Homo sapiens: one gene and its partners. The protein of the gene in region 1 purifies or fractionates together with the protein of each later gene. This does not show direct contact. Each region holds a gene or a part of one and is shown in the gene's direction. Other genes may lie near its edges. The genes, in order: CEACAM6, USP29 and ITGA2.

Evidence for each region.
Region 2: the proteins of CEACAM6 (region 1) and USP29 purify together in Homo sapiens (affinity purification with western blotting, with the first as the bait; one study listed by BioGRID). This does not show direct contact.
Region 3: the proteins of CEACAM6 (region 1) and ITGA2 purify together in Homo sapiens (affinity purification with western blotting, with the first as the bait; one study listed by BioGRID). This does not show direct contact.

What each region holds. Positions count from the first base shown.
Region 1 is NC_000019.10:41,765,497-41,769,149, forward strand, and holds part of CEACAM6 (cell adhesion molecule CEACAM6 preproprotein), read left to right. Parts: intron 1-686; coding exon 687-763; 3' UTR 764-803; intron 804-3,653. UniProt on the Homo sapiens protein: Cell surface glycoprotein that plays a role in cell adhesion and tumor progression. Intercellular adhesion occurs in a calcium- and fibronectin-independent manner.
Region 2 is NC_000019.10:57,126,383-57,130,035, forward strand, and holds part of USP29 (ubiquitin carboxyl-terminal hydrolase 29), read left to right. Parts: intron 1-2,277; 5' UTR 2,278-2,293; coding exon 2,294-3,653.
Region 3 is NC_000005.10:53,072,852-53,076,504, forward strand, and holds part of ITGA2 (integrin alpha-2 precursor), read left to right. Parts: intron 1-266; coding exon 267-408; intron 409-1,533; coding exon 1,534-1,626; intron 1,627-2,209; coding exon 2,210-2,286; intron 2,287-2,369; coding exon 2,370-2,453; intron 2,454-3,653. UniProt on the Homo sapiens protein: Integrin alpha-2/beta-1 is a receptor for laminin, collagen, collagen C-propeptides, fibronectin and E-cadherin. It recognizes the proline-hydroxylated sequence G-F-P-G-E-R in collagen.

The sequences.
Region 1 (3,653 bases):
ACAAGATAATTCACTGGGTAAAACAGCCATGAGGGAAGGTGGAGCAGCAGTGACAGGAGAGCCTAAGAGAGCCCTCAGACCACGATGCAGATCTCATTCCTGAGAAGGAGAAAGAGAAGGAGGGAAGTTTTACATAGCAGTGCAGTTCTGAGTTTCCCCAAGACCGATGGGGAGTCCTTGAACCCCTCACCCATGAGAGTGAAGCAGGGTCTCACAGACCTGGGCTTGCTTTCTTTCCCCTGGTGGGAGCCCATGGGAAGTGAGTTCTCTGTGCAAAGAACATAGTAAATTCAGAATGCACTAGCCTGGGCCTTCTGTCCATCAAGTCCCTGCCATAGAGCTCCAACAGGCTCTTATTCATGGCTGCCACAATTGAGACACTGAGAAAAAGATGCAAACATAAAAATATAGAAAGTTCTAATGACATGCAAAAATAGCAATCAGACTTTCTCAAATTTTCAAAGCCTTCAAAAATGTCTGAGTGCAGAAAGAACAGGATGAAATTGACAGAAGACTGATCACCAACCTAGAAACGTGGTAAGAGAGAAAAAAAATTGCAACTTTCCCACAAAACTAGTGTATTCCTTGAAGGAACAAGTCAAGCCTACTTCATGTTGACAGCTAGTTCTTGGGGACCCCACTGTAGAATAACATCACCTTCATTCCTTCTCTCTTCTTCCCACAAGGAAGTGCTCCTGTCCTCTCAGCTGTGGCCACCGTCGGCATCACGATTGGAGTGCTGGCCAGGGTGGCTCTGATATAGCAGCCCTGGTGTATTTTCGATATTTCAGGAAGACTGGCAGGTATGATCGCCTTTCCTCTTGCCATGTTTCCTGCAGGGCTGACCACCATGCTTGGGAAAGGAAAAAAACTTCTTCACCTGTATCTGGGACTGGATCTCCTTCTACCGCTAAACTCCTGCTTCTCAGCACTAATTCCTGCAGGTCTCTTCTTCCCTGGTCTTCATGCTCCCTGTACCCCACTGTCTCCTAGATATAATTATCCCCAGCCTCTGCTCATTTGTTTCCTAGAGTCAATACATTGTCAAAGCCTCTTCGTCCTTTTTCAACATCTCTCACTTTTGTCAGTCTCTCCATTCCCATCAACCTCAATAATTGTTCAACATCCTGCTTGACCCCTTGTTGTAAGGTTGGAATCCTTCTTGCATATGACTGCCTCATTACCTTCCTAAAATCTAGTTCACTCACCTACTTAAGGAGCCAAAGGGGGCCAGGCACAGTGGCTTATGCCTGTAATCCCAGCCCCTTGGGAGGCCGAGGTGGGCGGATCATGAGGTCAGGAGATACAGACCATCCTGGATAACACAGTGAAACCCCGTCTCTAGTAAAAATACAAAAAATTATTCAGGCATGGTGGCGAGCACCTGTAGTCCCAGCTACTCGGGAGGCTGAGGCAGGAGAATGGCGTGAACCTGGGAGGTGGAGCTTGCAGTGAGCCGAGATCGTGCCACTGCACTCCAGCCTGGGCGACAGTGCAAGACTCCGTCTCAAAAAAAAAAAAAAAAAAAAGAAGCCAAAGGAACCTGCTCTGGCCTACTAGTTAAGTTCAAATTTCTTCTCTTTACTAATTCTTCTTACTTTCTTTCCCTCTACTTCCCAGTATAATTCCTCCATCTTAATTAGAATCTGACTCTCTACACATCCCTGCCCCTTTACCCCGGATGCACATAGAATTCTTAGTTTCAATGTTACACCTAAAAACAGGGTGATCTCCCCTCCACTACCTGCCCTGTGGACTTACTCACACCCTTCATCACAAGCAACCTCTTATTTCATGGAGAACACAGACTGTGTAGTATTAATATGTGAACTTTGGACACATCCTGCATGTGGCTGAGAACCTTTTCCTGACAATCAATTCATGTGTTCATAACAGATACAGAAATGAAGAAGGCAAGGTCCCTACCCCCAGGGAACATAAAGCCCAAGACAGGAGATAAGACCTGAAAAATAATCATGATACCAAAGTAGAAAGGAGCGAATGCCACAAAAATTCAGATAAATCTGATGGGAAATATAGCTACACATTGGAATCACTCCGAAACATTTTTAAAAACGGATGCTCAAGCCCCAACCATAAATTCTGATCTACTGATCTGGAGTGGGACCCAGGCATTGGTAATTTTTAAGCCTCTCCAGACGCTACTAATGTGTAGCCACGATGGAGGATCCCTGTTCTAATAGGTAGGACTTGGGGCTAAACCCATGGTTTTTAGCTAGGAGGATTAGAATTACCTCTGGAGCTTTTTCAACATACATGGGCCTATACTTTGTTGGCCTAATTCATTAATGGGCTCCACCAAGAACTCAGTAATCTAACTGAGAAACAGAAACTAAAAGGAAAAGCCGCCTTATTTGATATGTTACATTATATGGGAAGCACTGTCAAATGATAAGTGATGCTAAACCTTCTCTAAGTTATATTTATGGTTATGTTATTGATGTGAGTGTTCCAAAAATTATAAGAGATTCCCAGAAATCTAACAGATTATAAGCCATAATGTCATATGCCACAGAAGTAACTAAATGTCTATGGGAGATGCATTCTTTTTTTATTTTTATTTTTATTTATTTTTATTTTTTTTTATTGATCATTCTTGGGTGTTTCTCGCAGAGGGGGATTTGGCAGGGTCATAGGACAATAGTGGAGGGAAGGTCAGCAGATAAACAAGTGAACAAAGAAACAAGTGAACAAAGGTCTCTGGTTTTCCTAGGCAGAGGACCCTGCGGCCTTCCGCAGTGTTTGTGTCCCTGGGTACTTGAGATTAGGGAGTGGTGATGACTCTTAACGAGCATGCTGCCTTCAAGGATCTGTTTAACAAAGCACATCTTGTACCGCCCTTAATCCATTTAACCCTGAGTGGACACAGCACATGTTTCAGAGAGCACAAGTTTGGGGGTAAGGTCACAGTTCAACAGGATCCCAAGGCAGAAGAATTTTTCTTAGTACAGAACAAAATGAAAAGTCTCCCATGTCTACTTCTTTCTACACAGACACGGCAACCATCCGATTTCTCAATCTTTTCCCCACCTTTCCCCCTTTTCTATTCCACAAAACTGCCATTGTCATCATGGCCCGTTCTCAATGAGCTGTTGGGTACACCTCCCAGACGGGGTGGTGGCCAGGCAGAGGGGCTCCTCACTTCCCAGTAGGGGCGGCCGGGCAGAGGCGCCCCTCACCTCCCAGACGGGGCGGCTGGCCGGGCGGGGGGCTGACCCCCCCACCTCCCTCCCGGACGGGGCGGCTGGCCGGGCAGAGGGGCTCCTCACTTCCCAGTAGGGGCGGCCGGGCAGAGGCGCCCCTCACCTGGGAGATGCATTCTTATCATAATGAACTCTCATCAGATGTTTAACCATACTCATTTTCAATCTTTGTCATTCACTGACAATTGTTTTTTGTTTTGTTTTGTTTGGTGGGGGGGTTGTTTTTTGTTTTTGTTTTTGTTTTGAGATGGAGTTTCACTAGTTGCCCAGGCTGAAGTGCAATGGCGTGATTTCGGCTCACCGCAACCTCTGCCTCCTGGGTTCAAGCGATTCTCCTGCCTCAGCCCCCTGCACAGCTGGGATTACAGGCATGCGTCACCATGCCCGGCTAATTTTGTATTTTTAGTAGAGACGGGGTTTCTCCATGGT
Region 2 (3,653 bases), about 15 Mb from region 1:
TTCAGGTATACCAATCAATCGTAGGTTTGGTCTTTTCACATAGTCCCATGTTTCTTGGAGCCTTTGTTCATTCCTTTTCATTCTTTTTTCTCTAATCTTGTCTTCACGCCTTATTTCAGTAAGTTGATCTTCAATCTCTGATGTCCTTTATTCTGCTTGATTGATTTGGCTATTGATACTTGTGTATGCTTCACGAAGTTCTCATGCTGTGTTTTTCAGCTCCATCAGGTCATTTATGTTCCTCTCTAAACTGGTTATTCTAGTTAGCAATTCCTGTAGCCTTTTATCAAGGTTCTTAGCTTCCTTGCATTGGGTTAGAACATGCTCCTTTAGCTCAGAGGAGTTTGTTATTACCCACCTTCTGAAGCCTAGTTCTATCAATTCATCAATCTCATTCTCTGTCCAGTTTTGTGTCCTTGCTGAACAGGAGTTGCGATCATTTGGAGAAGAGACATTCTGTTTTTTGGATTTTTCAGCGTTGTTGTGCTGGTTTTTCCTCATCTTTGTGGATTTATCTACCTTTGATCTTTGAGGCTGTTGATCTTTGGATGGGGTTATTGTGTGGGGGTCTTTTTTGTTGATGTTGATGTTGTTGCTTTCTGTTAGTTTTTCTTCTAGCAGTCAGGCCCCTCTTCTGCAGGTCTGCTGCAGTTTGCTGGAGGTCCACTCCAGACCCTTTTCACCTGGGTATCCCCAGCGGAGGCTGCAGAGCTGCAGAACAGCAAAGAGTGCTGCCTGTTCCTTCCTCTGGAAGATTTGTCCCAGAGGGGCACCAGCCTGATGCCAGCCAGAGCTCTCCTGCATGAGGTGTCTCTCAACCCCTGTTGGGAGTTCTTTCCCAGTTAGAAGGCACGGGGGTCAGGGACCCACTTGAGGAGGCAGCCTGTCCCTTAGCAGAGCTGTTGTGCTGTGCTGGGAAAATCCCTCTTATCAGGATCAGCTGCTCTCTTCAGAGCCAGCAGGCAGAAAAGATTAAATCTGCTGAAGCTGTGTGCCCACAGCCACCCCTTCCCCCAGGTGCTCTGTCCCAGGGAGATGGGAATTTTATCTGTAAGCCCCTGACTGGGACTGTTACCCTTTCTTCAGAGATGCCCTGACCAGTGAGGAGGAATCTAGAGAAGCAGTCTGGCCACAGCTGCTTTGCCATGCTGTGGTGAACTTTGCCCAGTCCAAACCTCCCACCCTCCTTAGCACTGTCCAGGGAAAACTCTACTAACGCCTCATTAATCACGGATGCGCCTCCCCCAACCAAGTTCCATCATTCCAGGTCAACTTCAGACTGCTGCACTGGCAGTGAGAATTTCAAGCCAGTGGTTCTTAGCTTGCTGGGCTCCATGGGAGTGGGACCTGCTGAGTGAGATCACTTGGCCCCCTGGCTTCAGCCCCCTTTCCAGGGGAGTGAATGGTTCTGTCTCACTGGGGTTTCAGGCACCACTGGTGTACAAAAAAAAATCAACTCTTGCAACTAGCTCGGTGTCTCCCCGAACAGCTGGCTAGTTTTGTGCTTGAAACCCAGGGCCCTGGTGGTGTAGGCACACAAGGGAATCTCCTGATCTGCAGATTGCAAAAACTGTGGGAAAAGCGTAGTAACCGGGCGAGTAGCATAGTTCTTCACGGCTTCCCTTGGCTGGGGGAGGGAGGTCCCTGGCTCCTTGCATTTCCCAGGTGAGGCAATGCCCCACCCTGCTTCTGCTCGCCCTCCATGGGTTGCACCCACTGCCTAACTAGTCCCGATGTGATGAACTGGGTACCTCAGTTGGAAATGCAGAAATCGCCCACCTTCTGCATTGGTCTCGCTGGGAGCTGCAGAGCGGAGCTGTTCCTATTTGGCCATCTTGGCCCCGCCCCTTTTTTAATTTTAAAAAATTTTATGTAGCGATGAGGTCTCCCTATTTTGCCATGCTGGTTTTGAACTCCTGGGCTCAAGTGATCCTTCCACTTGGCCTCCCAGAGTGCTAAGATTACAGGCGTGAGCCACCATGCCCAACCAAATTTGTATTTTCTCGATGAGCAGTGATGCTGAGCACCTGTTCATATCTCTGTTGGCCATTTGTATATTCTTTCTCGCCTAACAGCTCCCTTGAAAATGCGTGTGCCTCAGTCTATGTCTTCTGGAGAACTGGCACAGCTTCAGAATATTAGCACCCCAAAAGAGTATTTTACTTAGAGCATAAGAAGACTAAAAATAAATCATTATTATATGTGGATGAGGTTTTTCATAAAATATAACTGTTAATATATTCTTGGTTAAAATGCATGTGTGCTTTTCTTCTTTAGGTTACATAAAGAAAGGATGATATCTCTAAAGGTATGTGGATTCATCCAAATTTGGAGCCAGAAGACTGGGATGACTAAGCTGAAAGAAGCTCTCATTGAAACAGTGCAAAGACAAAAGGAAATTAAACTGGTGGTCACTTTCAAATCTGGAAAATTTATAAGAATTTTTCAGCTGAGCAACAACATTAGAAGTGTGGTCCTTAGACATTGTAAAAAAAGACAAAGTCACCTGCGTTTAACTTTGAAAAACAACGTGTTCTTGTTTATTGACAAATTATCCTACAGAGATGCTAAACAGTTGAATATGTTCCTGGACATAATCCACCAAAACAAATCTCAGCAACCCATGAAATCTGATGATGATTGGAGTGTGTTTGAAAGCAGGAATATGCTGAAGGAAATTGACAAAACTTCATTTTACAGCATTTGTAACAAGCCAAGTTATCAGAAGATGCCTTTGTTTATGTCAAAATCACCAACACATGTGAAAAAGGGGATATTAGAAAATCAAGGTGGGAAGGGGCAAAACACACTATCATCTGATGTACAGACAAATGAGGACATTCTGAAGGAAGATAACCCTGTACCAAACAAGAAATATAAGACAGATTCCTTGAAATATATACAAAGCAATAGGAAGAACCCATCAAGTTTAGAGGATTTAGAAAAAGATAGAGATTTGAAACTCGGGCCTTCATTCAATACCAACTGTAATGGAAATCCTAACCTAGATGAGACTGTTCTTGCAACCCAGACTCTCAATGCCAAAAATGGTTTGACATCTCCATTGGAACCAGAGCACAGCCAGGGTGACCCAAGATGCAACAAAGCCCAGGTGCCTCTTGACTCTCATTCACAGCAACTGCAGCAGGGGTTCCCCAATTTGGGAAACACCTGTTACATGAATGCAGTTTTACAATCGCTATTTGCAATTCCATCTTTTGCTGATGACTTACTCACTCAAGGTGTCCCATGGGAATATATTCCCTTTGAGGCTCTTATTATGACCTTGACCCAGCTGCTTGCTTTGAAAGATTTCTGTAGTACAAAGATCAAGAGAGAATTACTTGGGAATGTTAAAAAAGTCATTTCAGCAGTTGCAGAAATATTTTCTGGCAACATGCAGAATGATGCTCATGAGTTTTTAGGTCAGTGTTTAGACCAGCTGAAAGAAGACATGGAAAAATTAAATGCCACTTTGAATACTGGGAAAGAATGTGGGGATGAAAATTCATCTCCACAAATGCATGTTGGTAGTGCTGCCACCAAAGTGTTTGTTTGCCCTGTTGTTGCTAATTTTGAGTTTGAATTGCAGCTCTCCCTTATTTGTAAAGCTTGTGGTCATGCTGTTCTCAAGGTAGAACCTAATAATTATC
Region 3 (3,653 bases), on another chromosome or scaffold:
AGGAGTAAAACAATAAGAAATATAAAATTATCTGTATTTAAATGGTTCCATTCCCTCTAATACAATAGCAACAAAGAACAATCCAATTGCATTTACTTATTTGTTGTCAGTATCATTTTGATGCAAAGATAGTTTATTACACAGCAATTTTCTCAGTATTCTAAGTAAGTCTAAAGAGTTTAGTTTTTTAATGAGTGAAATTTTAAAATACTGGCCTTTTTATTTAACAGTAATGGCTTTTCCCCCCTCCTTTTTACTTTTAACAGAGAACAACCCTTTATTGTCAGCAACCAAAACAAAAGGTTAACATTTTCAGTAACGCTGAAAAATAAAAGGGAAAGTGCATACAACACTGGAATTGTTGTTGATTTTTCAGAAAACTTGTTTTTTGCATCATTCTCCCTGCCGGTATGTGATGAGACCCTGTACTTACTTCCACCATGCTTCCTACTTATAGATCACTGTCTTCTCTATGTCCTCTGAGTTGTTTAAAGAAGCACCTTAACCCTCAACATGATCAATCTGAACTTTGTGGCTTCCGACTAGTTAAACTGCATGAGAACATAGTCTGGCTCTATATCTAGATTCTGCTTGACAGCTTGGGTCAGTTTTTCCCTTATCCTGAGACTTGGCAGCAGTAGCCAGACACTCCCATAACTCTTCTTGAGCTATCAGTGTGATGAGGCTGCTGCATTCTGCACAGATGTGGTGCACTTGCTCTGAGACATTTGAGTCCCAAAGCTTAGCCTGAGCTTTGCAACTATGGTTGTTGCTGCTGCCAAGATGATGCACGCCAGCAAAGCCAACTAATCACATTGACTTGATCATTATACCAGGAGCACACTTGACTGTGAGTGCTCCCTGGTCCCTCCTCTACCACCAAATTATGAAGAAAAAAGGGAGAGAAGGAAAAGCTGAGATTTTCCAAATGAGCTATCTGATTAAAGGATTAAACAATGATTTCATTTAATTTAGAGTTAATGTGATCTTAATAGGCTTAGAGTTCTAAACCTAACCTGACCTTGGTGTTTAAACACCCTGTGCCAAGTGGCAACTACTTCCTTTAAAGGGAAAAAAAAACCTGAAGAAAACTAAAAAAAAAAAAAAAAAAAAAACCCTCAAATTACTTAAAATACAGACAAACACCAACATATGATTTTACTTTCTTCTCTTGAAAATGCTTCAAATAAATTGAGAAGAACATATTCCTAAAGCCAGCATTTCAAAATATTGAATTAAAGCTATTCGTGCATCTGAAAATAAAAACTATCATTTTTTTCTGGGGAAAAAATACAGTATTTAATCTTTTCTTTGTTTTGTTGGATGTTCTAGGTATCTTTAGGGTTAGCAATAAAAGTAGTATATTAGCCACCTGGGCAGTATAAAATTTCAAGTCTTGAGGTATAATAAATTATTTCAGTATGAACCAACCTTACTGCTAAAATGCCACTGTACCTCTTTTACCAGGTGCGTGCATACACACACAAATGTTGTATGCCAATTGATCATTGTTGTTTCCTTGGTCTTGTTCAGGTTGATGGGACAGAAGTAACATGCCAGGTGGCTGCATCTCAGAAGTCTGTTGCCTGCGATGTAGGCTACCCTGCTTTAAAGAGAGAACAACAGGTACAACTTGCATTTCATCCTCCAATCCATACAAGCCCTCCTTAGCACATATGCTAATTTACCAACATAACATCTTGCTATCATGATTTGATAGGCATCACAAAATAACTAGCTGCATACTTAGGGGAAGTTTTCAATATCTAAATGTTTTCTTTAAATTATTAATAAAAATGGGATTTTCTCCATGCAATTCATTCCAAAAGGTACACATACTATGGAAAGTTCTTTTTGTCTAAATATGTTGAGCAACATTGGTCAAAGCACTATACACAGAGTCACAGAGATCATTTATTAACCCCTAGTAACAAGTTTCACATCAGCTCAAAGCTTCCAAATTCAGACAGGTATATACGCCTGGATAACTTACATGTGTCACTTGGAAGTCAAGCTTCTCTAATTCTAATGTGAGGCATAGTAAAACAAGGTGGACAAATAAAGATATTCCACAAATTTGAAAGCTTAAGGTATATAAAATTCAGAATCAAATTTGAGTGAGTTTACTTTTATGAGAAACATTTTTTTTTTCACGTTGGCCTCTGAGTATGAAGCATCATAGACTGAGAAATTTTAATTTTGTCTTTAGGTGACTTTTACTATTAACTTTGACTTCAATCTTCAAAACCTTCAGAATCAGGCGTCTCTCAGTTTCCAAGCCTTAAGGTAAAACATAATGAAGTCATGAATGGAATGATGGATAGCTTTGTATTTCTCTTTAAGTAATTTCCTAATGTTTCTTTCTATAGTGAAAGCCAAGAAGAAAACAAGGCTGATAATTTGGTCAACCTCAAAATTCCTCTCCTGTATGATGCTGAAATTCACTTAACAAGGTAGGTGAAGCAGTGGGTAACCTGCTATCACTGACACCAACTCTAGATCAGAAGATTTTTGGCTCATGGCTAAAGAAGTCCTCTGTATGCTCATTCTTAACTGAAGAATTTGAATTAAAATTCTTGTCAACTAAAACAGGAGTCCACAGACATATTGGTCCCTAGGAAAACCTTGAGTGACTCGTTAGGCTTATTAAACCAATGAGAGTAGCCCAGAAAGGCAGAGAAAGATCCCCGTAGCCACACATCACAGGCACACTCCACATTGCAGGCCCTCTGAGTAGCTGCAAACATTCTCAAAATGTTGAAACAGAACTCTCAAAGGTCCTGAGAGTTGTCTTCACTTTCTTCTCACTGCCTACTTCCCATTGTATGTGAGATCTCAAGCAGTATCCCCATTCCTGGACATTGAAGCCCCAAGCACAATGTTTTGCACAGAGTAGGTCCACAATAAATATTGAATCTAGTCACTGTTTGAATATTCAAATATTGGAACTAGATCAAGTCTAGTTTCTGAGGGAAAAATTCCTCACATATCAGATTAGGGTTTTCTTCCAGCCAGGTGGAAATGAGGTTTTTTCCAAAGGATGTTATCCATAAAGAAATGCTTTGTTCCCTGTTTTTACCTGCCCAAAGCAAGCAAACCTGAGAGCAGTGGTGTAAATGTCACTGGTTGATACAGGCTGTCTTTAATTGTTCAGAGGGACAGGTGTCTTGGTAAGTGGGTAACACACAAATTCCACAGGTTCTAATAGGTCGATATCACTTTAACTCACACTTAGAAGTAAGGTGAGTTCATGGCACAGACAAACTGGAACACAGTTGTGCAGATGCACTGGGCACAGGTGATGCCCTCCTACAGGCCTGGGAACCAGAGTTCTCTACCTGGTGAAGCAATAGGACAGCTTCCCAGCACAGATCAATGACCCCTGAATAGCACACTGCAGCACTTTCCCAAGAAATCCAGTGACAGCAGGTTTGTCTAACTTCTACCACATCACTCCAGCCCCTAAGAGCATGGAATCTGTAGATCATCCAATAGCTCTCTGAGCAAAAACAAAAAGGAAAATATGTCATCATGTCTAGAGCTTGAGCCAAACAGCAAAGATGAAAAGAATGCTTCTGTATCAAGTGAGTTGCAAATAGCACAAGCAGAAACAAAATTCCGTCCAAATAATACATCTCTGAAAAAGTCATCAG